Linked DNA regions of Homo sapiens: all the other regions are linked to region 2. The links come from fine-mapping of genetic effects on plasma protein levels. A gene starts in region 2. Each other region holds a variant in brackets. All regions are shown on one strand. Distances are between the middles of the regions.

Region 1 (5,074 bases), 61 kb before region 2:
GGTGCATCTAGAAAGGAGGGGAAGTCTGTTGCTCTCAGGCGTTTCTGAGTTTTCAAATCCAACACATATCTAGAAGTACCCCTGCCACCCACAACCCCTGCTCCCCCATCGGCTCACAAGCAGGAGAGCTGGATTTGCTGGAGGAGTCACTTGCAAAGCTCTGCCTGGAGCATTCATAGTCACTGAGCGAAGCCATGCTTTCGGAAAACCGGGAAGAATCAGAATCGCTTGGCTGGTCCTCTCCCACACACTGCTTCTCGCCATTGAAGGGCATTTTGCGTCACTTAAGTGTGGGTAAAAAGGTAGCACCTGCACAGACAAACAGACCCTGCGTCAATGTTCTGTGGTACTTCCACAGGCACCACCAATGCTTCTTCCAGTGTAGACAACTGTCCCCACAAGTGTCACTGTGTTGGAAAGGCCCCCAGATGACCTCATCCTTCCCCCAGCACCTTGGCCGGACTAGGCCAGATCACTAGGTCATCGAGATTGCCTTTCTGAAAAGGGATTCCACAGCCATAGGTGTGAGCTTACTCAGGACACACCCACTATAAATGTGAAGCTCTAAGTAATGGCAGGTCCTTTTTAAAAAGATGCAGGACACATGCTCTCTCCTCCTGGGTTGCTGAAACATGAGAAGGCGGGAGTGTGGGACTTGGGTCAGATCTCTCGTTCTGTTCTGCCTTTTGCCATGAGACCTTGGGAAGGTCACTTAACTACCTACCTCATAGTGAAACTGGACTGAAAGACTAACCTCTCATTGGGTTGCCAGAAGATTGAATAGAATTCATCTTAAAGAGCTTGGCACAGTACTCAAATGTTAGCTGCTATTATTGCTCCTATTGCTTTGTTTCAGATAAAATAGCTGTGAAATCAGCCTCTTTACGCTTTCTGTGAACCTCCTGGGGAAAGGGGAAGACCGCATGAAACCTCTGGCTGGCAAGTCTTTAGCTTCTTCCCCCTCCATTTCCACATGAACTGCTGTGATATGAAGATTAAGACCTGATATATGGTTAGGATTTGACAATTTACAAAGTACCCATCACAACCCTATGAGTGCACAAGCATGTAGGATCCTGACTCACAAGTGGGGGAACAGACTCAGAGGGATAAGGGGATTTACTACATGATAAAACCAGTCCCTTGGTGTCTATGTCCAGTGTTTCTGGGACATGAGAATCCTTCCAGGGAAGGGCCGTCAGGTTTGGACACTACCCAGAAAGCAGATCACAGGCACACAGGATGACCAGGCCTTGGTCCCAGGAGCACCAGCCAGGCCCGTGAGGGAGCTGACCTTGATGTGAATATGGTATCACCTGACACTGAAGGGGAAACCCGGGCTCAAGGAGAAAGGCACCTCAAATCCTGGATGGACAATAATGAGAGGAAGAGTTCACTGAATCCTTTTAAACCTAAACCAGCCCATGCAATGAGGGATGCAGTGCTTTTAAAGCGGCCAGAATGGGAAACCACAACTATGTATAGTATGTCTGAAAATGCCTGCAGTTTCTTCAATGATTCCATTAATATTCAACAAGTGCCTACTTGAGCACTGAGCACCGGGGAAAGTAACCAAACAAAGACAATGCCCTATTCTTGTGGTTCTCAAGTCCAGCTACCTAAAACTGTGTACTGAATGCTACTAGATGGGAAAAGGGGGAATAAGGCATTGTTGAGAAAACACAAGAAAGGAGAGGCAGGCTCAGGATTAGCAGAGCGGGAGAAGGGGCACTAGCCTTTGTTGAGAGAAAAAGAGTAATTTTTTTAATTCCTTGGATGGTGATGGGGACAAGGATGAGTCTGAGAGGGATCTAATAAGGGTGAAAGGTCTAAGGTCATTTGCGCCTTGCCTCACCTAAACAACCGTCTTCAATCCTGCCACAGAAATGTATCCTTGCTGAGCCCACCACTTTTGCAAGCAGAAAACCACTAGAGTCCACTTGTGCAGGCTGAAGGGCAAGGAGTGGAGTGGAGACACTCACCTTATCCCAGAATCCCAAAGCCATGAACACTGGCTATAAGATTCTTGAGCCCTTGCATCCTCAGTGGTGAAACAGCCTCCTCTAACTCATGAAGACTAAATTCTACCTGAGCTTAAACTCCAATCTGCTCAGGGGAAGGCGAGAGAAGACAGAAGAAAAGGGGCTACTTCAAACCTTTCACTGCCACCAAACCCCAAATCCTAAATGGAATGTTCACCCTCCCCTCTAGTTTGCTTCCTCTCTTTGCCAACATTTGATGTCCCACTGATGGCATTTCTTGCAAATGCTACCTTCTCCAGGAAGCCTTGCTTCTAGCCAAAGTGAATAGCACTCCTCTTGGTATGTCTGCAGCGCGTCTCCTGTATCTCCATGACAGCGCTTAGTTCCTTGTACATTAGTTCCTTGTTCCTTTCTTCCCATGGCTACTTCTGAATCTCCTTAATAAAGCAGAGTTTGTGTCTTGTCCATGACCAGCGCCAAGTATATGACAAGTATTCATTCAGTGTCAGCTAAATCAGAATCCCTGAATCTCATTTGGTACAGCTTCAACCAGAACATTTGCAACCTGATATCATGACACGTTAACCAGGCTGGTACTGCCAAAGCCCAAGCCTTAGAGCAGAGAATCTACTGCTTAAGCCTATCTTATTAGATTTAAACCTCAAGATTCTCAGGTCCTTGTCATGCTCTTATTTGAATATCTTAAAGTTTGTTTCCACTTTAAGTCATTTTTCCCCCAGTTATTCCCCTGTAATGTAACCGCTGTGCTATGCATGCTCTGCTCTTAATTTTTCTCTACTTCGGTTGCCCTCAAATGAGCTCTGGCTGTTTTTCCAAGTGAAATTGAATAAGAGCTTCCAGCCATGAGAATTTATGAACTAGCTTAATAGTTTTAACTGTCCATTTCATTTTTCTACTTTAGCTGGATAGCACACTTGGTAGGTTTCTTAACTGTGTTTAACAAGGCAGAAAAGTGCAAAGATTAAAATAATTGGGAGTCAGGAGTCCAGGGTTTGTGGCCTGGGTTCATCATTAATGTGCCGTGTGACTTTATGCACATTTTTCTGAGAGGTTGGGCCAGTCATAAGGTTTCTCTCAGCAAGGAATATA[T/C]GATGCTCCAAACCCAGAGTTCCATGAGGCATCACTAGAAGTTCTGAGAAATTAAATGTGCTTATGGCAGTCATGCTTAACAATGTGAAACTACACTTTCTTCCAGCAATTCACTGGAGGTAGAGTTCCTGGCACAGGGGCTGCAATGGAAAATTTAAAAGCTTCAAAATGTTTAGAAACTCTTGTTTAGTGGGTAGAAGCCTCCACATTACAACTGGGCCTTAGTGTATCCAAACAGAAACCTGTATTTGAAGCCAAAATGCCCATTATTACTCTATTAAAAATTTGTCTGTTTCCTCATATAGGCTTACTAAGAATACCTAATTCATAGGGTTGGTGTGAGATTTCAGGTACCCAATACATGCAGCGTGTTTGGAACAGTCATTGACACAGTAAACAGTATACAAATGTTTTCTATTATTTGCTTTTTTTTGTTAATATCATTGCCTCAGGAATTAAACACTCTGGAGGGAAGAACAGTTTTATGTCAGGATAACACCATATTCTTCAACAGACAAACAAGGCTGGTAGTTAACATAGAACAGAACTCTTGGCACTTGTTTGACAGACAAAAACCAAAAGCGAATGGCCCATCACTGTGTGAATGGTCTTCCGCAAGTTCCTTCATACCTGCTCTTACCTTTCTCGGTCTTGAGTTTCCAAGTAAGTCACCTGGGGACAAACCTACTTGATTCAAAAGGCACTGAGGATATTTAGATTGCTTTAAAAACTATTTTGGATTATCCTTTAGACTGATGATAATGAAACCAGGCTGTATCTTTAAGAAAGGTAATACTCCTTATGCAAACTTAGATCTACCTAACCTTTGCCACTGCAACTCACAAGTAAATCAAACAACTTTTCAGAAACATCACATCTCATCATACCTGGAGGATTTAATCACTGGTCAAAGGTAAAGTCAACAGAAAAGACTGAAGATGACTCCAAGCAAAGCCTCCAACACGATAGCAGGTCACTATTCAAAGAAAAGTACTGTCATATTCACATTTTTGATTGTATTATTCCATCACTTTGTGATAATAAATATAATGTCATTTCTTCTGAGACCATCACTGGAATGCAGCAAGCATTCAAATATTTATTCAAATATTTATTGTTGAATAAATGAATGGTAGTAAGACTACTGACATTTAAGAGGTGTGAATGGGTACAAGGACTTGAAGGGGCTAGTGCTGTATTTCACTACAGATAGAGAGGAGATTGGTTTTTAATTTGCTTGTGATTCCTCAGCTCGTGTGCAGCTTTACTTCCTGATTTCCTTTCTGCAGCAACTCTATCTGCAAATAGTTCTGCACTGGTTCAGAATTGCAAAGATACACTGATGATAATACATGTCACTGAAGCCATAAGAACATTGCCTCTGGAGCTAGGTGGACTGGGTTCTTGATCCCGGCTCCTCTTGATTATTTACTGACTAGAAACAGAGAACTCGCCATTTGTAAAATGGGACAATAATAGTATCCACCTTGTAGAAGTGTTGTGAAGATTAACTGAAATAGTATCTGTCAAGTACTTAAGCTCCTAGTAAGTGCCTGACGGATGTCAACTATTATTTTATTCTTATTAAAAGAAGTTACAAGTTCCGAAAATGTAATGTCATAAAAAACAAAGAAAGGTTGAGAATATGTTCCAAATGAAAAAAAAACACTTGATAACTGAGTGCAATAGGTGATCCTAGAGTGGATCCTATACTGAAGCAAAAATGCTGTAAAGGACAGTATCAGTCAATCAATAGCACTGTTAACAATATTTGAATCTACTGTCTGTTATCCAATGTTAAATATACTGAAGTTGAAATGTACTGTGGTTTTGTATTTAGGAATAAAGGGCCATGACATATACAACTTTTTCTCAAATGATTCAAATGCAAGAGAGAAAAAATAATAAAGCACATAGAGCAAAATGTTAATAGGTGAATCTGAGAAAAAGGTAGACAACATGGTATTCCTTATACTATTCTC
Region 2 (5,074 bases):
CCACCACATCCAGCTAAATTTTTTTTGGTGGAGTCAGGGTCTTGCTGTTATCTAGGCTGGTCTTGAACTCCTGGCCTCAAGTGATCTTCCTGCCTTGGCCTCCCATAGCGTTGGGATTACAGGTGTGAGGCACTGTACTTGGCCTGGATCAATTTTTAAAAATTTAAATATCATTTAATTATTTTTGATAAGGATCAGATGACTATTTCTCTAAGAAACGGATTAATAATAAGACAGGTCCTTAAAGATGCACCTTACAGAAAGGGTGACCCTGAAATCTAGAGGAGTTTAGGGATACTTCTCAAGGTCACACACTTTGGTAGCACTAAAGGAGTAGGGCTCTTGCTTTCAAGGCCAGATCTTGGCAGCAAGCTGCTTTACCAGTTATCACTGCCTCTGCCCCTAACATGGAGAACTGCTTGAAGGGGGATAACCTCTTTTTGCGCGCTAGAGATTTTAACAACACAACCCGAACTCAGCTGAATAGTTTTTAAACAAGGTTCCTGTGATGAGTGTCTTCTGATTTCTTCTGCTGTCTCCCCGCGCCACAGGTCAGAGACCTGTGCCCTGTTGAACCTAGAGGCTCCTACAATAGCTCCTGGTATTTAGCTGAAGTAGGGTGTTCCTCTCTGTCTGGGGCAGATGGTTGTATTTCTAGTCCAGAACCTGCTATAATTTACTCTGTCCTCCCACACTAATAGCGATTCTTCTATCTGCCAGCTTGGCTTCTATAGCCTTCTGCAATCTGGACCCGCTCCACCCAGTTCATCTCTTTCTTCTCTACATGTAGAACACACCCTCATGGCCAACAGGTGTCCTGGGCTCACCCCATTTCCGCCACAGAAATATCCTCCCTGCTCTCCTCATATGCAAATCATTCTTCAAGGCACTGCTCAAGGTCTTTCTGCCCCCAAAGCCTGCCCATGTACAGGCCAATGGTTTGCTTTCCAAATCTCTTTACATTTATGTTCCCAATTTACCTAAGTTAGCCCTCAACAGGTTTCTGTATATATCTCCAAGTGTAGTGCAGGCTCCTTGAGGGCAGGCACACAAGTGTTCATTCATTCACTGGAGGCTTTTAGCAACACCTTATAAAGCGAGAAAGAAGGAGAAATATAAACTATGGTTGCTTCCAGTCCTCAGGGAGGGGAGACATACCTGGCACACAGTGGGCCCTCAACAAAGGTTTGCTATATTGAACTAACATATATGCCTCTCGTTGCAATTACTTGCTAAGTCCCATGAGAGGTATCAAATGGTGTTATAGGGAAAGCATCATCAAAGAGGTGGCATTTGAACCCTATAGGCTTTAAGGGCAGGGCATGGTTTTGTCTTTGTTTACAGAACTGGGAGGAGGTTACAGACAGAAGAAACAGCATTCCTACTACACACAGTGCCAGGTGCACACAGTGCCAGGCACACATCACTCACCAGAAACTGGGGAAAGCAGTGGAATTGAGTGAGTTCTGTCCCTGCCCCGGCACCAATTAGACTGAGTGAGTGGGCAAGTTGCTTAACTTCCCTGGGCCCCCGTTTCCTTCCCATTCTGAAGTGATTAAGCTGCACAGACTTCAGAAAGAAGCAGACTGAGTGAGGTTCGAATGATGACTATATGTGACCTTGAGCCAATCCGAAGCCGGCTCGCTCAGTCTCAATTTCCTTCCTATAAAATGGGTAAAATAATTTCTACCTCACAGGGCTTTTGTGAGATTTCGAGAACATATGTGAGTCGCTAACCACACAGCCTGGCAATACCAGATTTCCTTTTACAAAAGTAGGGGTGACAACGCTGATCTGCCTCTTTCTGTGTGGCTGCTGCTGCCTCCGCAGCACCCATCCCAGAGGCTGTCAGGAGTAGGGGCCGTGGACAAACTTCATGACCCCGAAAGAGAAAACAGAGCTGAAGGGGCTTCGGGGGGAAAAAGTAAAGAGCTGGCCACAGCAGGCTAACTTGGCTAACGGGGACACTTGGTGAATGCGTCCCCTTGAACAGACTTACCACAGTCGAGAATCTTTGCTAACTCGCATCAACCATGCCTCCCAAGCTGGCTGGATTTTGGACAGCCTTTTTTGTCTCCGCCTTCAAACCCAAGGCAAAGGACAAGGCCCAACCCCATGGCGGGCTGGGAGAGTGAAAGCAGGGGGAGTCCCCCAATTCCCAGCGGAAAGGAAGGGCGATCTGTTCCCACCCGCTGACTCCCACTCCCGGGGCCAGGGCTCCTTGGGCGCCCCCCTTCATTTCTCTCCTCTCCGCACAGGTCGGGAAGGGAGGGGGTCGCGCTTGGCCCGCGGCGCAGGTTCACCCCGGCTTTCGTCCCTCCGACCCCGCCTGGCCGCCCATCCCCGACCCCCGTGGACCCTGCTCGGCCGCCCCGGCTGGGGTCGATCTGGCCCTCCGCCCCCAGCCTGCGTGGAACCCGCCGGGCCGCCAGCCCCACCTCGGCCGCGTCCCCTCCCCTCCGCTCCGCTCTTCTCCCCTCCCCTCGCGGCCACCTCGGTGCCCACCCCGGCCTCCGCAGACCCCGCCGGGACCCCGCCCCGCGCCCAGCCACCCCCGCGCCGGCTTCCCGGCCCCCGTAGACCCCGCCCGGCCCTCCCTCTCCGGGGTCGTGGCGGCGGGGAGGAGGGGCCGCCGGGCCGGCGTGCGTGGCAAGCTCTCCCGGCTCGGCTCGCTCGGCCTCCCTTACCGGGAGGCGGGGTCGGCGCCGCGGCGGCGGAGGCAGGCCCCCTCCTCCCGCCTCCTCGGCCCGGCCTCCTTCCCCGGCCGCGCGTCCTCTCGCCGCTCCGACGCCAGCAGCGCCCGCGTGCCGCTCGCCCAGTCCCGGGGGAGCCCCTGCAAGTTTCCCGGGCCGCGCGCCGCGCTCGCTCGCCTCCCAGCCCGCGGCCCGAGCCGCCGCCGCGCCCGCCATGCCCTCGGCCAAACAAAGGGGCTCCAAGGGCGGCCACGGCGCCGCGAGCCCCTCGGAGAAGGGTGCCCACCCGTCGGGCGGCGCGGATGACGTGGCGAAGAAGCCGCCGCCGGCGCCGCAGCAGCCGCCGCCGCCGCCCGCGCCGCACCCGCAGCAGCACCCGCAGCAGCACCCGCAGAACCAGGCGCACGGCAAGGGCGGCCACCGCGGCGGCGGCGGCGGCGGCGGCAAGTCCTCCTCCTCCTCCTCCGCCTCCGCCGCCGCTGCCGCCGCCGCCGCCTCGTCCTCGGCGTCCTGCTCGCGCAGGCTCGGCAGGGCGCTCAACTTTCTCTTCTACCTCGCCCTGGTGGCGGCGGCCGCTTTCTCGGGCTGGTGCGTCCACCACGTCCTGGAGGAGGTCCAGCAGGTCCGGCGCAGCCACCAGGACTTCTCCCGGCAGAGGGAGGAGCTGGGCCAGGGCTTGCAGGGCGTCGAGCAGAAGGTGGGTACCCCCGGCCCCGCAACTGTCCCCATCGACTGCGGCCTCCGGACCCACGGCCGGGCTCCTTCGTGCTTCCCGACCGGCCCCTAGCGCTGCCTGCCCAGGCCCGGAGGCGGGAGCCGGCCGCTCCTCCTTGGCGGGCCCTGGCCTAGACATCCCACTCCACGCGGCCCCCTAGTTCCGAGGCAGTCCCCAGACCCCCTTTGTTAATGGCTGCGGAGGAATCGGCCCCGAGGGATGGGCCGCCGCGAGGATGCCCAGGCCCGCCTGGCAGGGTGGGCCAAGGGCCTGTCACAGGGCATTAGCGGTGACCTGTAAGGAAGCCGGCAGGCTCCGGGGAGCCCATTCTTTCTGCATTAGGAACCGCTGAATGGGCAGAGCTGTCTGAAAAGGAGGTTGGAAGGGAAGCCAGCGCATCCCTGGAAGCCTCAGGCAAGGCCCCACCTCAGCTCTGCCTGTGGGAGACATCCGAGCGGGGTTTTTAATAGACCCGGAGCTGGCATTCTTACTCATTTGCAGGTCCAAATGAAATACCATCTATCTTTAGGTCCCTTGTCCTGTATTGGACCAGCCTGCCCAGGTGGGCCTTTGACGTAGTCCTACTTCAGCTTTTTTGGGTTTTCTTTTGAGAGGGAGTCTGGCTCTGTCGCCCAGGCTGGAGTGCAGTGGTACGATCTCAGCTCACTGCAACCTCTGCCTCCCAGGTTCCAGCGATTCTCCTGCCTCAGCCTCCTGAGTAGCTGGGATTACAGACATGTGCCACCATACCCAGCTAATTTTTTATTAGTAGTAGAGACAAAGTTTCACCGTATTGGCCAGGCTGGTCTCGAACTTCTGACCTCAAGTGATCCGCCTGCCTCGGCCTCCCAAAGTGCTGGGATTACAGGCGTGAGCCACTGCGCCCGGCCCTACTTCCGCTTTAGGGGAAGAGGAGGGCCAAAAATACTAGATCATACTGGTGAATAATACTTCTAGCCACATTTATATGGTGTTTAGAATGCTTACTCACTCACATATTATCTAATTCTTATAACTACCCTGGGAGGGAGGACTAACAGTTTTGATTTCATTTCCCAGAGCAGAACATTGAGGTTTAGACAGAGGAATGAGTTGACAAAGTCCCCAGCTGGTGAGTGACAGACACACGAGAATGTCTAGGCCACTGCCCTGTTCGTCAAGGGTCCACAGGGGTCCATTTCAGGTATGGATGGACCCAACTCTCAAGGCGAAGGTGCTTAGCTTCCACCCTTCTGTGGTTTTTCCATACCAAGTACAGCCCCTTTGATCTTATTCGCCCTCCACTATGTCATTGCTCAATGAAAGTTGGTTGCAAGACTGAAACAAAAAATCCCGCCACTTCTGATCCCGGAGCCACTGCCTCCTTTTCCCAGCATGCTGTCTGTCCTGCCAAGTTGCTCTCTGCTTTTGTTGAGTGTGCAGGACCAGGAATTTCCTCTTAAGACTGGCAGAGCACGGCCGGGCGTGGTGGCTCACGCCTGTAATCCCGGCACTGTAGGAGGCCGAGGCGGGCGGATCACCTGAGGTCAGAAGTTTGAGAGCAGCCTGGCCAACATGGTGAAACCCTGTGTCTACTAAAAATACAAAAATTAGCGGGGTGTGGTGGCACATGCCTGTAGTCCCAGCTACTCAGGAGGTTGAGGCAGGAGAATTGCTTGAACCCGGG
Region 3 (5,074 bases), 240 kb before region 2:
AATCATCTCAACCTGAGGCCCAAACTCTCAACCTCTGCCCTTGTCTAATGCCAAAAAACTATTCTTTACCCAATTGCTCCCATCTTGGTAAACAGCATTATCAGTTGCTCAGGCCACAAACTTCATCCTCAACTCCTGTCTTTTCCTCTTGCAACATCCATCCAAGCCATAAGCAAGTCCTGTTGGCTCTATCTCCAGAGTATGTCCAGAATCCAGTCACTTCTCTCTATTTTTCCACTGCTGCTGTCCTAGTCCAAGCCACCACCCTTTCTTGCCTGGACCACTGCAATGGTCTCCCTGCCCCCTTCCTTGCCCGTTCCAATCCACTTTTCATATAGAATCCACAGTGAGCTCTAGAAGTTGTAAGTTAGATCTCGTCACTCCTTTGCTTATATTCATTTTTATGGTTTGTATGTACCCACAAAAACTCATGTTGAGATTTAATTGATATGGGGCCTTTAAGAGGTGGTTAGGTCATAAGGACTCCATTCCCATGAATGGATTAATGCCATTATTACAGACTTGGGTTACTTATCTCAGGACTGGTTTGGTTATAAAAGCAAGCTCTCCTGCCCCTCTGCCTGTCTGCCACGGGATGATCCTCTCCAGATGCTGGTGCCACGCTCCTCCACTTCCAAGTCTTTAGAACCATAAGCCAAATAAACTTCTTTTCTTTATAAATTATCCAGTCAGTGGTATTTTGTCATAGCAGCAGAAAATGGACCAAGACACCCACCATCCAACGGTTCTGTTGGTTCCCAGCATATCTGGAGTAAAGTCCAATCTCCTTTCTTTTAGCCAAAAGGCCCTATAGGATATGCCCCCATCATCCTTCTGTCACTCCCCAAGTCTCATACTGTGCTGCTTGTCAGGCATATGCCTGGCCAGACTGGCCTTTTTTCTGTTCCTTGAATATACCAAGCTTATTCGTGCCTCAGAACTCTTACCCTAATGATTCTCTCTGCCTATAACTAAATCCTCCCAGACTTTTGCTCGGCTGGCTCCTTTGTATCCTTCGTGTCTCAGCTCAATGTCGCTTCCTCCGAGAGGCTGTTCCTGATCGTAATCTAAAGTACACACCCCCACCTCTAAACCATCCACTCTTTTATATCATTCTTCATATATGGCACTTATCATTACCTTCAATTATCCTGTTTATATTTTTGTTTACACTTTTTTTTCTTGAAATGGAGTCTTGCTATACTGCCCAGGCTGGTCTCAAACTCCTGGGCTCAAGTGATCCTCCTGCCTCAGCCTACTAAGTAGTTGGGGTTTATATTTTTGTTTACTTCTTTTTTGTCTGTTTCCTCCCCAAGGAGAACACAAATCCCGGGAGAACAGAGACCCCATCAGTCTTGTTTACCTCTGTATTTCCAGTATTTAGAACAGTGCTTGGCACACAGTGAAAGCTCAATAAATGGATGAATTAATCAACAATATAGGCACTCGAGATGATCTTCCATCATCTCACCATCTCAAGTCAGTGAGACACAAATGCTTTGTGATTGGTGCCATCGTTTACCGGATTAAAACCACAGTCCCCGTGGTTTTTCTTCTTTATGCTGTCTTTATTTCAGTCAGTCAAGTCCATTCATTTGCTCTTCTCTGCTGCCCCCTGTTTTTCTTTCACATCTTTATCAAAGCCCTCTAAGCCTGAACCCCATCTAGTCTCTGAGGGCTTCCTTTACCAGGCAGCCTGCAAGAGAAGACCCAAGACAGACCTGCCCGCAGCTCACCTTTACTGCCTCCTGTCTGTGCATCAGGCACTGTGTTCCCTGCTTTTACACATTAGTATCAAGGAGGCCAAGACATAAAGGGACAAAATAGTTCACCTAGTTGGAGTTCAAGACCTTTCTCTCTCTGCTATACTTTTCGTCAATCCGAGGGCTTTCTTTAAATACTGAACAGAGGATGGCTGTGATGAAAAGGCAATATGTTCATTCAGTATGGCCCACAAGACAAGGCAGGACTAACTGCAGTAACTTATAGACTCTTGAGCACTCTTACTAACTCTTGAGCACCTCTGACTCAAGAAAACTATCAGAGCAGTGCTACTACAGAAGAGGCTGCCTCAGAAAATAGCAAGGGCCTCCCTTCACAGGCCACAATCAACATGGAAAACCATCTGCCAAAGATAATCTAAAAAGAACTCTTATACTAGAAGATGGATTTAGACTGGACTTCTAAAAGGACTTTTCAAACTCTAAGATTCTATTCCTATCTATGGTAAACTCTAAACCTCTATATTTTTAGTGGTTTCTCCCATATAATTTAGCATTTAACTATGTAATCCTTCGTATCCATCTTTTTGCTTCAGGTGTCAGTCAACTCCTCATGGGCATTAGTCAAGGGATTAATTTACTTTCTATCCCCTAAAGTGCCCCACACAGTTTTGAGCCCACAACAGTAACTTAAAAATGACCGAATAGGTTTCCCTGGGGCTGTCAAGGCAGGTTCTCATTTGTGCCTGGGATGGACGTGGGTGGGCATGTATACAGTTGACCCTTGAATAACACAGGTCTTAACTGTGCAGGTCCACTTATATGGGGATTTTTCTTCAATGAGATATGAATCGAAAATACAGCATTTGCGGAATGTGAGCCCTTCTCCACAGAGGGACAACTTTTCATATATTTGGGTTTTACAGGCCCAACTGTGGGACTTGAATATATGCAGGGGTCCTGGAACCAATTCCCAGCATATACTGAGGGATAACTATATTTAGTTATTATGGCTGAAGAAGCTTTAGTGGGCCTGTGTGATCAGTTAGGGTTGGGGAGCTATGAGTCTTAGGTGTTGAAACTCCTGGTGCCAGTTTAGATAAAAATGAGGCATCTCATTTCTGATATTTACTAGGAAGAATAAATTACACTTATTCTGGGAGTAGTGAGTTTGGCTTGTTATGTCAGTACAATTTCCAACAAGACCAATGAATATGTAAAATCCTTTATTTAATAAAGGATTCCTCAAACATCATAAGTGGATACCATATTATATGCAAAGTGCTATGCTGGGTGCTTTGGGGTTAAGTAAATCAGCAGGGCATGTTTCCTAATCTCAACG[A/T]ACCTAAAATATACTTACCTAAGTGATATGGTTTAGATTTGTGTCCCCACCCAAATCTCGTGTCAAATCCCCAGTGTTGGAGGAAGAACCTGGTGGGAGGAGATTGGATCATGAGGTGGATTCCCCCCTCGCTGTTCTCATGATAGTGAGTGAGTTCTCACAGGAACTGGTTGTTTTAAAGTGTGTAGCACCTCCCCCTTCTCTCTCTTCCTCCTGCTCTGGCCGTGTAAGATGTGCCTGCTTCCCCTTTGCCTTCTGCCATGATTGTAACTTTCCTGAGGCCTCCCTAGCCATGCTTCCTGTACAGCCTGCAGAGTTGTGAGCCAGTTAAACCTCTTTTCTTTATAAATTATCCAGTCTGAGGTATTTCTTTATAGCAGTGTGAGAATGGAATAACACACTAAGTTAGCCAACAAGGTATTCTGGATATTTAACAACATATACAATTATTTTTTAAAAAAACTATTGGTATCTTTGAATCTTTAGAATTTTATTTATAAAACTTCAAAAAATAGACTTTTACTACTGTCATGCCTCTGGCTTCAGATGGGTGACATTCAAGAAGAGGACCAAAGTTGTAGACCTTAGTTACAACAATGATCCAGAAGAAAGATAAATTATTTTCAGATAAGAGCTGACAAACTATGATTAATGCTTCTCTGATGATTGTTAGCATTTATGTAATAATTCTCAGGGTGTGAGCTTTAAACATTTTAAAATTAATTTTCAATCTGAGAATTGATTAAAATAGACAAAAACAAACAAACAAACAAACCCAAGAAGTCTTAGAGGCAAGGCTCTGGTCAGGAAACAAAAGGTTAGTGCTCTAAAAATCCTTCTCATTTTTTATTAAAATAATTTTCAGTTCTATAAGTTGCATTGAAAAAAATCAAGCATACTCACTAAACATTCTTGTGCTGAATATTCACAAATAATAAACAGATTTCTAGTTAAACATGACAGATGAAACACATGTGTTTATCAACACTGCTTCTCTAAACTTCACTGAGTTTAAAAAAATTAAGGTGTAAACCTACGTGTAAGGAGAAAGAATGGGCACAGTGGTATCAGTGGGCATGAGATAATTCTACAACTTTGAAAGCTGATAAAGAGAGGAAAGAAAAGTAACAGGAGAGTAATACTAAGTCCCTGCAGATGAGATGTGAAGAGGTGAGCTGACATGGCCTTTGGTGCCACCCCCACTCACCCACCCGATTCCTGGGAAGGCTCAGAAGACAGAGACACGAAGTACTAGTATTGCAAAAGGCAGCGTGAGGAGCGAAGCTGAAAGCAAGAAGACTGAGTCAAAGCCGCCCAATCCATCAGCAATTCCAGGAGGCTCTACTTTCAAAATGTGTCCAGACTCTGATCCCTTCTCACCAATTCCTCATCGTTATGCTTTTCCAGCCCACCTCCAACTCTCACATAGCTTCTGAACTGGCACCACTGCAGTTTCTTTCAACACAGCAGCCAGTGTCAGTCAGATCATCTCTCTCACCAGCTCAAACCCCTCTCCAGTGGCTTCCCTCTCCCTCAGAATAAAAGCCAAAGTTCCTGCAGTGACCTATGAGCCTCATGGCTGCCTCCTCACTTCTCACTCTGCTCCAGCTATGGGGCCTCCTTGCTGGTCTTCTATTAGGTGAGCTACAGCTGCAAAACCTTCACCTCAAATGCTCTTCAGCCAGAGAGGGCTCACCCTCTTACTTCTCTCAGATCTTTACTCAATGCCATCTTTTCAACATGGTGTTGTTCCCCAACCACTCTGCCTAAACTTTGAATCACTAACCACACGCCCTCCCCTCACATGCTTCCCATCCCCCCTCCCAGCTTTCAATCTTTTCTCATCTCACGACATATCATTCCCTCAGCACTTACTATTTTCCTTCTTGCCCACAAGAACACAAGCCCCGCAAGGGTTGGAACTTTAATCTATTTTGTTTACTGCTTGTGACCAGAGCCTAGAATAGTACCAGACACGCAGAAGATACTTAACAAATATTTGTATAAATAA
Region 4 (5,074 bases), 78 kb before region 2:
GACAATGGAGCCTTGCTATCCCTTGGTTTTTCCTATCCAGATTTGTGACATTCTTCTGATTTCTGACATTTTGGCTTTTCCTTTGATTCTGCAAACTTCCTCCATCCTTCCATTCACTTCCCTTTGGCTAAGTCAGCTAGAGTTGGTTTCTGTTCCTTGCAATACAACTCAGGTAATATAACACAAAACTGAAAAATTCAAAGAAGGCTGAAAAAGTAGCAGCTTGGTTTAATCTGGACTTGGATTTGGGAGACCTGGTTTCCAGTCCTAGCTCCACTGTTTTTTGTTTTGTTTTGTTTTGTTTTTGAGACAGACACTTGCTCTGTCGCCCAGGCTGGAGTGCAGAGGCGCAATCTCGGCTCACTGCAGCCTCCGCCTCCCAGGTTCAAGCCATTCTCCTGCCTCAGTCTCCTAAGTAGCTAGGATCACAGGCACGCGCCACCACACCCGGCTAATTTTTGTATTTTTAGTAGAGACAGGGTTTCACCATGTTGGCCAGGATGGTCTCGATCTCCTGAACTCATGATCTGCCCGCCTTGGCCTCCCAAAGTGCTGGGATTACAGGCGTAAGCCATGGCGCCCAGCCTCCACTGTTTACTTAGCTGAATGATTCTGAGTCTAAGGAGGTCATCACTGAGCATCAGTTTGCTCTTCTTTAAAATATTCCATAAATATTTCTTGAACCCCTCATGTGACAGGTGAAGGCAATCACAATAGAGTTTCAAATATTCTGAAAGTGATATTTATGTCCCACAGAATTTTTTTAAAGAATAACATGAAATAAAGTTCATGAAAACATTTGATCAGATATGACGTATTGTCTAAATAAAGCCTTTCTTTCTGGGTATCTTAAAAATTACTTATGGCCCCCACCCAGGGATAATCTCTTGCTATTTTCACAGATAATTTACATGTTGGATCTAATGTGGTTATCTTGTTGCTACTTACTTAGTACAGATAATCATTCCTAAGGTTCTCCTGGCTATATTTAAAATAGGCAATTATATAAAATCTCCTCTTAGGCAAAATAAAATATTTTCCTGGAGCCAATTCAGAAATCTAGAGTACTTCTCTGTATTAATTTTCTAATAATTCTTATATAATCATGTGTACACAGAAATCCAACATTTTGAGGCTCTTATTTTGATATTAGGGCACAGGGGCTGACTTTTGGCAGAGTGACTTGGGGACATAATTAACAGCTGACATACACTCTGCTTCTGGGACTCTTGATTTCTCTTGCTAAGCAATAATGACCTATATGCAAAGCTGGGTTTGCTCTATTCTTAAATCTCTGAAAATATCCAAGTCAATAGAAAAGTTGCAAATGGATTACAGGTCACTAAGCCTGGGTTTTAAAAAGAGAAGCAAGCCAGGTGCAGTGGCTCATGCCTGTAATCCCAGCAAGTTGAGAGGCAGGAAGAAGCCAGTAGTTAGAGACCAGCCTGAGCAACACAGACCCCCGTCTCTACAAAAAATGTTTTAAAAATTAGCCAGGCGTGGTGGCACATGCCTGTAGTCCTAGCTACTTGGGAAGCTGAGACAGGAGAATCCCTTGAGTCCAAGAATTGGAGGCTAGAGTAAGTTATCATCATGCCACTGCACCCCAGCCTGGGCAATAGAGTGAGACTCTGTCTCTTAAAGACAAACAGGGGGGAAAAAAAAGAAGGAAAGAAAAAAAACAGAAAAAAAATAGGCAAATAATTTGAGATGAAGAAAATCATAATTCACCCTATTAGAGAATTTGCTCAAGATTCCAAGCTATCTTGATGAAAGATATGGGTGCATTTGTACATGTGCTTACATACACAGGTACACAAATGAAAGCAACCACTAAGTCTCAGAGAAATGCTGCTGTGGACAGTTGCCACAGTTGAGGTTTCAGATCCAGGTTCGATGTAGGGTTCTACTTCACTTTACTCCCTCCCCTTTGAAGCTAAAACAACATAGCCCTTGGAGTCATAGAGTTTTTGTTATAGAACAAAACTTAAAAGTTATCTGACTAGATAACTGGCTATCCAGATGACTAAATAATCTGCCAGATGATGTGAGAGATCCCTCTGCAATATCCCCCACAGTTGATATCTTGTTTGAAGAGAGGCAGGGTTGCACAGTATCTAAATGCACACGCTTTGAGTCAGAGACACATCTGGGTTACCCAGGCTCTACCCCTTACTAGTAGTCATCTAGACTAAGTACCTTAACCTCACTTTCCTCAGTTGTATTAGGGGGTGATAACAGTACCAACCTCATAGGGCTAGTGTGATGCTTGCATAGACTACTAAAGTGGTACAGTAAGGACTTAGCATGTAGTAAGTGCTCATACAAAATGTTAGCTAGCACTGACTACTGCTATAATAGGCCCATTCCAAAGTTAAAACAGCTCCAACTATCAGGAAGGTCAAAACCAGCTGTCTGCTTCCTCCCTCTCATGAATCCTAGTCTGCCCTACAGAATTTCACCAGTCTCTGAGTTGCTGTCAACAGGGAGGGTGGATGGGGCCATGGCCCACCTGAGTCTCCTTGTTACCAAGCAGAACATGCCCAGCTTCCTCGACGGTTCCTCAGGTGGCCTCCATGATCAATGTGCTCTCCCCTGGATGTGCTCCTGCCTGCCAGGGCCCCTTTAAATGTGGCGCCTGTTTTGTCTTTTTTATATAAGGCCATTGTGTTGATTATCTCGGCAGAAACCACCTAACTCAGCCTTAAATAGTGGTTAATTAAACCCCAGAGGCTGGTGTCAAGAGTTTGCCAATGAGCAGTTAGCCAGCCTCTTGCAGCTGTGCAACCTCTGGCATCTCAGTTTCCTTGCCTGTAAGATAAAGGGAATAACAGTACCTACTTCACTGGGTAACTGGTAATTGTGAAGATTTGATGAGCTAAGATTTCTTCTAATCCTATTTTTCCTTGATCCCCCTCCAGTCTGGTGTGTGTGGGTTTTTTTTTTTTTTTTTTTTTCCGAGACGGAGTCTTGCTCAGCCCCCCAGGCTGGAGTGCAATGATGCGACCTTGGCTCAC[T/C]GCAACCACCATCTCCTGGGTTCAAGCGATTCTCCCATCTCAACCTCCCGAGCAGCTGGGATTACAGGCACCTGCCATCATCCCGGCTAATTTTTAGATTTTAGTAGAGAAGGGGTTTCAGCATGTTGGCCAGGCTGGTCTTGAACTCCTGATCTCAGGTGATGTGCCTGCCTCGGCCTCCCAAAGTGCTAGGATTACAGGTGTGAGCCACTGTGCCCTGCCCAGTCTGGCTTTAATGCACACAAATCCACTGAAACCACTCTCATCAAGGTTACTGACCATCATCAAACAGTCAAATCCAATGGTCAAGTTGGCCTGTGTCTTTCTTGACCACTTAGCAATGCTTGTCAAATCCAAACATGCCTTCCTTCTCCAAATACCTTCTTCACGTATCTTACAGGACACCCGCCTCTCCTGACTGTCACACTACCTCTCTGGCTACTCCCTCATAGTCTCCATTGTTAGACCCTCCTCCTCATCTCAACTTCAGCTTCTAGCTGCTGGAGTGCCCCACGTCAGTTTCTTTCAGAGTCCACACTCACTCCCCCTAGGTAGTCTCACCCAGTGTAATATAATGGACAGGAACATGGACTATGGAGCCAAGCTGCCTTCCTAGGTGAGCTCCTATACTTTTAAGTGTGTTACATAGGCCAGTGACTTAACCTCACAGTGCCTCAGTTTCCGCACCCATAAAATGGGGGGTAACTTCATATAGTTGTTGCAAGGATTAAATTAGTTTGTACAGGTAAAGTACTTAGAGTGTGATAAGGATTTTCTAAGTGTTAACTAGTACCCAGTTCCATGGCTTTATATATCATACATATACTGATGATTCCCAAATACATATACAGTTTCCATTATTCCTGTAAACTCATAATTCATATCTAAATGCCTACCTAACATCTCCACATTGATGTCAAATGAAATCTCAAAAGTTTACATCACCAAACTGAACTCTTGATTCCATGTCATCTCCCAACCTTCTTTCTCCTGGTCTCACCAGTTTCACTCAAACTGTATGACCATTCACCCGGTTGTACGAGGCCAAAAACCTTAGAGTCACCCTCAACTCTTTTCTCCCTTATCCAATCTTCAGCAAATCTGATTACTCCACTTTCAAAATGTATCCAGAATCTGGTCTCTTCTCACTCCTTCCACCATTACCATCTGGAACAAGCCACCATCATTTCTTGCCTGAGCAACTGTAATACCACCTAATTGGTACCTCTGTTTCCCTCTTTGTTCCCACATGACCTATTCTGTAGCCAGGAACAAGAATATTCTTCAAAAATGAAAATCAGATGTTGCTCCCCTGATTAAAACTCTCTGATGAGTTTCCACCGCACATGGAATGAAATCCAAACTCCTCTCATTTACTAACAATGCTCTATGTGACCTGCCTTTATCTCCTTTTCAGCCTCATCTCTTACCACTCTCCCCTTACCAACTCTACTCCCGTCACAATGTCTGCCCTGTGTTTGTCAAACTCATAAGCAGTTTCTGCTTCAGTGCCTTTGTACCTGCAGTCCCTCAGGCTAGAACGTTCTTTTCCCCATCTTTACATGCCCCTTCCTCATTTCTTTGCAAACTTTACTCAAATGTTACTTACAGAGACCTTCCCAGTCCATCACATCTAAAAAACAATGCTGTCCTCACTTCTGACCCATTACTGTCCCTTTATCCTATTTTTCTTCATAGCACTTAATAATACACCTGACAATATATGTTTATTTATTTGTCATGCCTACTAGAATGTCAGCTCCTTGGGGACGGCAACTGTATTCCATTCTGTTCGCTGCAGTATCCACTGCACCTAAGCAGTGTCTGAAACACAGGAGGCACTCAATAAATATATCTTGAATGAATGAAGAAACGAATAGTGCTTAGCACAGTTCCTGGACAGAATAAACAACTGTAAGTTTGTGATGTCAATTTTGGAAGGTAAAAAAATGTTTAATAGAAAGGCCAAAATTCTTTAGTGATACTATATATGAAGTCAAAAATGAAAACATCACCTAATTTTCATTTTAACCTTTAACATTTTAAATTTTAATTAA
Region 5 (5,074 bases), 320 kb before region 2:
AGAATTCCTGTCTCCAGCATTACATTCATTTTTCTTTCATTCACTTGACCTTTTATCATTCCATCTAGGCACTTAGTCCATCTGTAGTTCGCCTTTGTATTGTTTTGCAATGTTTTTCCAGTATGGTTAACCATTCTTTTTCCATCAAAACATGTCTCAGTCAGCTTGTCCTGCCATTAAAAAATGCCATAGACTGGGTGGTTTAAACAACAGAAAATGATTTTCTCACAGTTCCTGAGGTGAGATGTTCAATTCTGCCAATTCTGTGTCTGGTGAAGGCTCTCTCCCTAGCTTGTGGACAGCCACCTTCTTGCTATGTCCTCCTATGGCCTTTCCTTAGTGTGTGGGCAGGGAGATAGAGAAAGAGATTTCTCCCTTTTTTTTTAATACTAGTGCACAAAATTTATGTATGCTTGCCTGTTTTTCAGGGAGAAAAATCTTCATTAATCATGGTGAGAAGAAACTCAACTCCTTGGACCATAAAAATACAACACCCAGGTATCACTTGTAGCCAGGTGCCTGATTTATACCTAGCAGGAGTTAAAGCAGCTATGGCACACTGGCCTGGAAAACACACTTATGGAAGGTCATGGTCTAGTTCTCTAAAACAGTAGGGAGGCTGCTTGTGGGGAAGGCTCCCCAGTAGGATCCCACCACACAAAAGATTCTTCCTTGATTGCTCATAAAGGCTCATCCACTCTCCACACCCAAAGACAGCCGTATGGGTATCTAACTGGAGTGGCCCAAGATGATCCAGAGGAAATTCAAGACGCAGATGCTATTCAGTGCAGAACAGATGCTTCCTGGTATCTTTGTGGTCTAGATGGCTGACACATTCTTTTGCCAAGAAAAGCATTTCAAAGCATGGTCCACGACTCTAGAAACCCTTTTCCTCTGCTTGGGGGCAGTGAGAGATGGATCAGTCAATCCAGCTGCTGGATTCTGTCTCTTGTTCATGCCTCTTAGTTAAAGGCAGATCCTGTAACTGGCCCAAGGTGACCCATGTGCAGGTGATGCCCTGCAGTCTGACCCCCACCCCAGCTGTCACATAGACAGTTCTAGGACCAACAAGGCATTGAACCCACCAAATTGGTTCCAGTTTTTATAAAGGTAGTTTTTAATGCTGGTGTGATGGTGATGAAACAGACATGGACATTTCAACTCAGGAATAGCCAAATGGAAGAGATGTGTAGGGCAAGCTGTGGGGAAGCAGGGGGATGCGCGTGTCTGTATGTCCAGAACTGTCATGTCTTCTCTTGGGTGCCACCCTCCCAAATCTCAAGGTATTCACCAACCTGGAAGCTCCTCCCTCTTCCTATAAGGCCACCAATCCTGTCGGCTTAGGGCTCCACTCTGATGACCTCCTTAAACCTGAATTACCTCCTAAAGGCCCTGCCTCCAAATACAGTCACACTGGGGGCTAGAGCTTCAACATATAATTTTGGAAGGACACAATTCATAATTCAGTCCACAGCAACTATCTGTTAAATAATCTATATTTTCCCCACTGGTGTGTGGCACCACCACAATCATACTCTAATTTCCCATATAGGCACTCTTTAGTCATTTTCTTTCATCTGTTTGCTTCTTCCTGACCTGGTTCCATTCTACCTTTATCACTATGTCTTTGTAACATTTTTTATATCTGGTAAAGCAAGTTTCCCTTTCTCTTCTTTTTCAAAACTGGCTTAGTGGTTCATGGAATTAAATTTTTCATATATATTTATTTTAGAAGAAATTTGTCAAATTTATCAAAAATCCTTGAGCAATTTCTTTCCTTCTTTCTCCTTCCTTCCTCCCTCCCTTCCTTCTCTTCCTTTCTTCCTTTCCTTCCTTCCTTCCTTCCTCCCTCCCTACCCCCTTTTTTTCTTTCTCTTCTTTCTTTCCCTCCTTCCCTCCCTTCCCTTCCTTCCTTCCCTCCTTCCATCCCTCCCTCCCTCCCTCCATTGCCCAGGCTGGAGTGCAGTGGCACAATCACAGGTCACTGAAGCCTC[G/C]ACCTCCCAGGGCTCAACTGATTCTCCTGCCTCAGCTTCCTGAGTAGCTGAGACTACAGGCACACACCATCACCCAGCTAATTTTTTGATTTTTTTTTTTTTTTTAAAGACGGGGTCTCATTATGTTGCCCAGGCTGCTCTTGAATTCCTGGGCTCACTCGATCCTTCCACCTCAGCCTCCCAAAATACTTGGATTACATGCGTGACCCACCATGCCCAGCCCTTTGAGTAATTTCAGTTGAACTTGCATTAAATTGTTGAGTTGAATCAGTATGTTTACATGTCACTCCACATATAAACATGGAATAATCTGTTCATTTATTTTAAAAAAATATGTCCTTTAAGTTTGTTGGTAAAAGTCTGCCTTAGTTTGTTCAATTTAGTCAGGAACTTATGGTTTGGTTTCTATTATTAATGCTATCTTGTTTATCCTGTTTTATACGTGGTTATTGCTAGTATAGAGGAACACTATTGGATTTTTTTTTTCATAACTTTGCTGAGGTATGTGGCAGTCAGGTAGACGTGTGACTCAGATCTCTTTTAAGAGAATCTGCTGTGGGAGCATGGTTGACTGACAGCTGCTGCTGCTGCCTCTCTGTGGCTACCATCACAGTCTTACCTATGGCTCCCAGTGACTGGGTACAGTAGTGGTAATAGCGCCGGTGCATTCTTGCAGAATGCAAGCTTTGTCTGAAGGCCCCCCGTTTGCCCGGCTGAACCATTTTTAGAACGTTGCTGCAGACTGAGAGTTGTCCTACCTAATCTTTCTTCCTTCCCCCTTTCCTTTCACAGATATGAGTCAGGCGTTACCATGTGACGATTCTCCCCATCTTTTTCTACTCTTTTTTACCCTTCACAGGAATTTTTCTCCCAATACATTTCTTGCATGTCTAATCTTGCTTTGTCTCCTGCTTCTTGGAGGACTAGAACTGAGAGAAGGGATGATTTACATTTAGTGAAATGCACAGATCTCATTTACAGTTCCATGAGTATGACAAATGCTTACACTTGTGTGTCTCATACTACCAACTATACTTGCTGACTTAGTTATTTCTTTCAATTGTCATTTAAAAATATGTGTTTCAGTGCTTTCTTAGGTGAATATACAGGTGTGATCATATATCTGTTGAAATATGCCTTACAAATATAAAGCTTCCTTCTTTGTCACATATCTATTTGTTCTGATAATAAAATTGCTCTCTTTAAGATCCTATTTCTCTGGTGTATTTATCTCCCTTCTTGTATTTTTTATCTTTTTGTATTCTCTTGCTTTAAGTGTTTCTCTCATAGATAACATTAGATATTAATCCTCTCTGCATCTTTATCTTTTTATACTAGTGAATTTTATACATATGACCTTCCTTTCATGTATTCTATTTACCACACTTTCTGTTCCTTTTATTTCCTCTTACTACTTGCCATTAGAAAGGGTAAAATTAAACCAGGTTTTTGTTTTAGTAAGTTATGAACGACTACCCAAAGAATAAAATTGAATGTATAATTTCAAGCAAGAGACATTTCAATCTATCTAATCATTTTTAATTATCGATTGTCACATACATGTTTTGTTTGCTTATTTCATTGTAATGGTTGCTGAGTTTTACAACAGAATTTACCAAATTATTTATTCACCCTTCCATTTTTGACCACATCCTCCTTGTTTCCTTCTTGCTAGAGCACTTCCTTGAATATTTTCAAAGAGGGTGTTTCTATGGCAAACATGAATTATTAACATTAAATATTACTATTAATTATCATATTTAAATGATAGTTTAGCTGGATTTAGAATTTTAGGTCCTAAGTTCTTTTACTTTAATACTGAAAATATTACTCTGTGGTTTCCTTGTAGATGTCACTGTTGAGAAACCTGATGTTGGTGATTCTTGTTCCTTTTCAGGCAATTTGTTTTGTATCTCGAAGTGTTTAGAATTTTCTCAATGTCTCTGATGTGCTTAAATGATATGAACATGTATCTAGGTATGTTTTTTTCTTATGTTCCTTATCTTGTTAGGAGTACTTGTACTTTGAGGTCTTAAAAACCTCTCTAATCTGAGAAATTCTCTGTTTACTCTTTCTTTAAATATTCTACTCTTGTTATTTTTTCTTTTCTTCTGAGACTTCTATTAATTGAATGTTGGTGCTTCTGTTTCTATTTTCCATATCTCTTTTCTTTTTTATATTACAACTATAAAACCCATAATGATGCTATCTGGAACTAATACTCCACTACTTTGATTTCTTATCTATGTATTCTGCTATTCAATCTACTAATCAATAGTCAATCCATTGAGTTTTTGTTTCAATTTTTTATACTCAGAAATTCTTCTTGGGGCTTCATTATGCCTTTGGCTTCACAGTATCCTTTCTTATCTGTTTAATATGCTTTCTTGTTCTGTCTGGTCTGCTAAGTTTGCTTTATCTAAGATTAGATTTTTCCATTAGTTGCTTTTCTCTTATATCAGTGGCTAATTATACCCAGGAGTATATTTTTTTCCTAGGAGTTCAAATTCAGAGCTGTCACACTGCAATGCAGTGGCCCTATACCTATTCTTCTAGAATAGAGATTCTCAACCTGGGGTAAATTTGCCCCAACAGAAGAAATTTTTGGTTGTCATCACCTGTGGTGGAGGGTGGAGGAGTATTACTACTGGCTCTAGTGTGTAAAAGCCAGGGATGCACTTAAAAATCCTATAATGTACAGGAAATCCTCCCACAACAAAAACTTATTTGGCCAAAATTTCAATAATGCTAAGGTTGAGAAATTCCGTCCTAGAGGTACTAGATGCCTGAGCCAGTGAGAAAGGCTAAAGCATAAGCCCTAGCTTCTATCTTTCTTGATAAATTTGGCATTGAGGGAGCAGAGAGAAAGAGAGCAAGAGAGAGCTCAGGATGTTACAGTTTGGACTTCCATCTGGACCCCCTTGTTTTCAAGATTTGTCTGTGAAGGAGGAGTCACTATAAAGCAGGGTAGAGGGAGGAAGGAATGCTAAGGGGCTGAGCAGTTTACTTGTACCCACTGTTAACCGGTTCTTAACTACCCAGCTTGGCTACAGTGCCTACTCTGATGTTATCTTGGCAAC
Region 6 (5,074 bases), 19 kb after region 2:
ACCTCTGAGCTACTAATCTGTTTTTCCAATAATATCTGGACACCTTGCTGCCCCCTAACACCCTCGGAAATCTCCCTCGGATCCAAACTGAAGTCATTTCCCCTCGAAGTAAATGGCACAGCTGGCCCCTTCACTGCTTAAGCTAGAAGCTCAGGAGTCACCCGTTGTCTCCCTGTTTCTCCCCTTTCCCCTCCCTCCACTTCTCCTAGGGTTGAGGCCTTGACACATCCACCTCTGTCCCCTCCTCCCAGCCTTTTGGGTTCCAGCAGCAGCCGCTCCCCACGATGCTCTCTGCTGGTCAACTGAGATCAGAAACGTGGTCCATGCACTCAGTATCCATTCAACAATATTCAGAGAGCGCACACTCTTTGCCAGACTAAGGAGATTACTTTATAGATATGGTTCCTGCCTTCATGGTGCTCATGATGCAGCTGGGAGGAGACATACAGGACAATGTATTATACACACTGCAGTATATGCTTGAGGGACAGGTACAGCCTCCTAACTGGCCTCCCTGTCTCTAGCCTGGCTCCCATTCAGGGAATCAATCCTCCATGGGTGACCATCGTTCTCTTTCTCAAAAGTAAATCTGCCTGTGTCCCCTCCCTGCGAAATCCCTAGGCTCTCCCCTTGGCCTCAGGAGCAGCCTGGCTCTGGGTCGTGGCCAAGAAGGAGCTTTCCGATTGCTCTGTCTTCCTGCCCTCCAGCCTCCTCTTCTGTGAACTCTGTTTGTAGCCGCCCTGATTAGCATAACTACCCCTCATGTGGCCCCTGGTTCTGTCACTCTTGGTGCCTTTGCACGTTCCCTGGATCCTTCAACCCAAACCACAGGCTGAATTTGGGAGCTCCTCCCACGAGAGCCCACACTCCAGGCTTCTTGTCTTCAAAGTGCTCCTCTGTCTGTATCATGACCGCTTGCTTCTGGTGTGTTCCACATGAGAATAAGGCTCTGTCTTTCATCTCTGCATCCACAGAGATCATTGTGCTTGGCCCACATCAATAATAACAGAAATAACTAAAATTTATTGAGCATTTACTATGTGCCAGACACTGCTCTAAAGGTTTTACGAGGATTATCTCATTCAATCATTATAATAGTCCTAAGGGTAGGTACTATTGGCCTCTCCATTTTACTGATGGGGAAACTGAGGTACAGAGCGATTCAGTAACTTGGACAAAGTACTTCCTAGTCATAGCTAGCAAGTGGGGTAGCCAGGTTTAGAACCCAATAGCTTGAGTTATTAGGTTGGTTCAAAAGTAATCGTGTTTTTTGCCATTAAAAGTAATGGCAAACCATTACATTTTAATGGTAAACCATTAAAATTTTGTACTGCTCTAGAACTGGTTTCTTTTCTTCACTTAAAAAGACATCACTGTTTGGGATTACTTTTTGTTGAGGTGCAACTTTGGTGCTTTAAGGCACACACATCTGAAATATATGGCTGAATGAATTTCTGCACACGATATCTCCATGTACTCACTACCAGATCAAGATATGCAACTTTTCCAGCACACCAGGGGCTCCCCGTGCTCCTCAGTCAATACCCTCTAACCTAACCACTATTCTGCTATCACCATAGAATATTTTGCCCATTTTTGAATTTTGTAGAGATGAAATCATACCATATAAGACTTGGTATTTCTTTTAAAAAATGACAGCTTTACTGAGATAAAATTCACATACCATAAAGTTCACCCTATTAAAGTGTACAGTTGTTTTCAGCATATTCACAGAAGGCTGGAAACATTCCTATCTGGATGAATCTTGCCCAGCCATATATTAAAAAAAAGTGTGAGACATAGTAGGTGTTCAATAAAGGGCAGCTGTTTGAGAACATACTGACTTCTGAACTGGACACTGCATTTGTCCTGATGGTCAGTAACTCAGAGAGAAAAAGAGAGGGTGAGGTGTAGTGGACGTTTTCTTCGTCATACCCCTCTGACTGGGTTCACAGAGGGAGGACCTAAAACCTCAGAGGCAGAGGGTTGAATTGCCCTTCCCCGTCTTCAGGATGTGTTTGGTCAAGGGATTGATTCCACCTACTGTCATTTATTATAAACTGGGTGCTGAGCTGCATTTGCTCAGCGGAGATGAGATGAAAGATGAAGTCTTCCTCTTTGAGAGGCTCCCAGCCAAACAGGGGACACAGACATGTAAATGGCACCATAATCACATGCAGGGTGACCTGTGCAGCGGTCAAGGGACCACATGAGGACTGCTGGGTCCTGGACATGTGTTGTTGCCTGCCCAGCATCCAGTCCTCCTTCATTTGGTGACCACTTCTCTGTTTTCTGTTAGGGAATCACCCCTTCCCCACTCTCAGTCCATTTGGCTTTGATGAGACTGACTGGGCTGAGTGCATGACCCAGGTTTGGCCAATCAGAAATCTGGTTTGACTTGTGCAGGAGGAATACAGGTCGCCATCCAGTCCATTGACTACTGCTGGAACTTTCTGGAAAGGGATGCTTTCTGCCCACCGGGACTGCCAAGCTGGATAAATGCCCAGGGCTGCTAAAGGCCACCACATGTGCAGAGTCCACTGAGAATGAGGCCAGCATAGAAGAAAACAGAACCAAGAGTCGGCAAAACACAGGTTCCTGAGGACATAGTTTGAACACCCAGGTCACTTGTGCTAGAGGCCATGTGTGTCTCCACAGAGCCCCTGAACACCACTGTGTCCCCTTTCCTGCGCACAAGG[C/T]GACATGCAGCCGTGGAGAGAATGGGCACAGCAGCGCCGCTTACGAAGAAAGAAAAGTGGAAACACCGAGAAAGTAGCTACAAGATCAGTAAATCCACTATCACTTGTTCATACAATAGACCTCAAAACGACAACAAAAAGGAAGAAATCCTAATCTCATATATCGTGGGGATGAATCTCACAACTAAAATGCTGAGTGAAAAAATAAGCTGCAGACAAAATACACAGTGTGACACTTCAGAAATTCCTTAATTCTTAAAACTAAGACATTTTACCGTGTAAAATAATACTATACATTGTAGTGAAAGTACCAAGAAATGACTAGGAGACCGAATATCCAAATTCAGATCATTTGATTTCTTAGGCTGAGTGGAGGCTACCTAAGTATTCATGATATCACTCATAATACATTTTTTCTCCTTTCAATATTTTATTATGAAAATTCAAACAGCAAAGTTGAAAGAATTGTCCAGCGGACACTCATATATCTACTACTTAGATACTATAATGAACACTTTGCTATGTTTGTGTATCACATATATATCCATCTCCCCATTTTTACAATTTTTTTGAACAGTGTCTTGCTCTGTTCAGAAAAATAAAAAAATATGGGGAGATGGTATATATATATGTGATATATATACGTCCAGGCTGCAGTGCGGTGGCCGATCTTGGCTCACTGTAGCCTCTACCTCCCCAGCTCAAGTGATTCTCCCACCGCAGCCTCCCAAGTAGTAGCCGGGACTAACAGGCGTGCACCACCACACCCGGCTAATTTTTGTGTTTTTGTAGAGACAAGTTCTTGCCTTGTTGCTCACTCTGTTCTTGAATTCCTGGACTTAAGTGATCACCTGCCTTGGCCTCCCAAAGTGCTGGGATTACAGGTGTCAGCCACCATGCCTGGCCTCCCCATATTCCTGATATCTTTTCATAGGTCAGAAATATTTTGTAATTAAACTTTTTTTTTTTAAAGGGGAAGAAACACATAGAGAAAAGCTTATACTTTTAATAGTTAAACTAGTACAGGTCAGAAAACAAATGACGCCTACATATATTACGTGAAGTGCTGCATTTACGCATGATTACTTTTCATAGTAATGATAGCTAAGTAGCCATGTGACAGGCCTTAGAAAGCTAAGGCTGAGAGAAGGCTCTAATCTAATTCTGTTGTTTTACAGATGGGGAGGCTGAGTCTCAGAGAAGTTGTTCACCCAAGCTCATACACTAACTGGCTAAGAAGACAGGGCCTAATTTCTTCTCTTATCCCCCACAATTTGTTTTGGCTCCAGGCCTAAGCACAGATGCAAAATGCTCAGAAGTAAGCGAAGAATCAGGGCAGTTGAGTTGCTGCAGGCAGCAAAACCCACTCTTGGCAGGAAGGGGTGTGGCAGCCTGGCCTTGCTGTGCAAGCCCCCGCGTGTGGCAGCGAACACTCAGGAGCAATACCTGTTGGGTAATGGGGCTGTGGGGAAATCCCGGCCTGTGTTCAAATAGCTGGTGATGTTGTGTTGAAAGAGGCATTACCAACTGGGTGTGGCTGCTGGTGTGAGGACACATCCTGTCCCACAGAGTCCTTCATGGAAACTCAGAAGGCTAGGTCTTTTTGTTTTCTTCCATTCACGGGTATGATCTTGGTTTGCACTCCAGGACGGAGTTCTCACATGGTGTGACAAGAACAGCAGGGATGGGGGAAGTCACCTGGAATCAGGACTCTGGTCCGAATGCTGGCCTGCCGGGCTGTGCTGCCTAGGATAATTCACTTTCCTTCTCTGGGCCTCCATCTGTTTTCCCATCTGAAAAGTGAGGGGAGATAAAGTAATCTTCATGTTCTCTTCCAGATCCAACTTTCCTTGACTTTAACCATTGCACAAGAGTCTTTTGGAGCCTCGGGTGGGCAGGAGGAGGCCTAAGGGAAAAAGGACTAGACAGTGAGCAGATCTCTAGGGGCCAGGGTGGCTTCTGTCTTAACCAAGGGTCTGTTTGTAGCTCCCATGGGGGCCGGCACACACTGGGTCACAATTAATGTTTTCTCATTTATTGGGGTGAAATGGGGAATGTTGGCCGGGCCGGGCTGACATCTTGGATAACCTCATGTGAAGACTATTCACTTTCAGAAGATGCCGGGATGCACCAGTAAAAAATCCAGAGCGGCTCAAGCCCCTGAACTTTCAGCTGGGGAATAGCCCCAAATCAGCTGACTGTGGCAGTAGGAACCCAGAGAACATAATTGAAGTGAGAATTTATTGCCATCTAGTGTCAGAGTCAGGGATCACAGGAATGATTTCTTCATTTTTCGCTCTTGTTCCAGAAAGGGGATAAAATCCAATTGTACCATTAAAAATACCAGAGAAATCCACTATTTAAAAGACCTATGT

Direction of the effects. Alleles are on the strand shown, and positions count from the first base shown. The strength of an association depends on the size of the effect and on how common the allele is.
For the plasma level of the protein whose gene starts at base 2,739 in region 2, allele T in region 1 goes with a lower level than allele C (weak association).
As copies of T replace A in region 3, the plasma level of the protein whose gene starts at base 2,739 in region 2 goes up (weak association).
With allele T in place of C in region 4, the plasma level of the protein whose gene starts at base 2,739 in region 2 is lower (weak association).
In carriers of allele C in region 5, the plasma level of the protein whose gene starts at base 2,739 in region 2 tends to be lower than with G alone (weak association).
In carriers of allele T in region 6, the plasma level of the protein whose gene starts at base 2,739 in region 2 tends to be higher than with C alone (weak association).

What was found. PIP is the chance, under the fine-mapping model, that this variant and not a neighbour inherited with it causes the effect. The UK Biobank Pharma Proteomics Project read protein levels with antibody pairs (Olink). The fine-mapping took linkage between variants from a reference panel, not from the people measured, so its PIPs are less certain.
Region 1: its variant is fine-mapped to the plasma level of the CKAP4 protein (UK Biobank, PIP above 0.99).
Region 3: its variant is fine-mapped to the plasma level of the CKAP4 protein (UK Biobank, PIP above 0.99).
Region 4: its variant is fine-mapped to the plasma level of the CKAP4 protein (UK Biobank, PIP above 0.99).
Region 5: its variant is fine-mapped to the plasma level of the CKAP4 protein (UK Biobank, PIP above 0.99).
Region 6: its variant is fine-mapped to the plasma level of the CKAP4 protein (UK Biobank, PIP above 0.99).

Annotation. Positions count from the first base shown.
Region 1 is chr12:106,306,276-106,311,349 of GRCh38, reverse strand. TCP11L2 (t-complex 11 like 2) reads right to left here. Exons shown (of 10, transcript NM_152772.3): 2 at 118-309. The coding sequence starts at 274. Among named protein-coding and RNA genes, the nearest start is that of TCP11L2, 6.1 kb to the right of the region's middle. The variant T/C (reference allele first, on the strand shown) is at 3,093.
Region 2 is chr12:106,245,685-106,250,758 of GRCh38, reverse strand. CKAP4 (cytoskeleton associated protein 4) reads left to right here and starts at 2,739. Exons shown (of 2, transcript NM_006825.4): 1 at 2,739-3,390. The coding sequence starts at 2,908. LOC124903008 (a long non-coding RNA gene) reads right to left here and starts at 2,487. Exons shown (of 2, transcript XR_007063443.1): 1 at 2,000-2,487; 2 at 1-1,088. RefSeq lists silencers at 2,164-2,503, 2,534-2,843, 3,504-3,593.
Region 3 is chr12:106,480,701-106,485,774 of GRCh38, reverse strand. The region is part of intron 23 of POLR3B (RNA polymerase III subunit B); the gene reads right to left. Among named protein-coding and RNA genes, the nearest start is that of RFX4, 100 kb to the left of the region's middle. The variant A/T (reference allele first, on the strand shown) is at 3,064.
Region 4 is chr12:106,323,776-106,328,849 of GRCh38, reverse strand. The region is part of intron 6 of TCP11L2 (t-complex 11 like 2); the gene reads right to left. Among named protein-coding and RNA genes, the nearest start is that of TCP11L2, 24 kb to the right of the region's middle. The variant T/C (reference allele first, on the strand shown) is at 3,018.
Region 5 is chr12:106,562,667-106,567,740 of GRCh38, reverse strand. The region is part of intron 1 of LOC100287944 (a long non-coding RNA gene); the gene reads left to right. Among named protein-coding and RNA genes, the nearest start is that of RFX4, 18 kb to the left of the region's middle. The variant G/C (reference allele first, on the strand shown) is at 1,995.
Region 6 is chr12:106,226,857-106,231,930 of GRCh38, reverse strand. No RefSeq gene overlaps it. Among named protein-coding and RNA genes, the nearest start is that of CKAP4, 19 kb to the left of the region's middle. The variant C/T (reference allele first, on the strand shown) is at 2,700.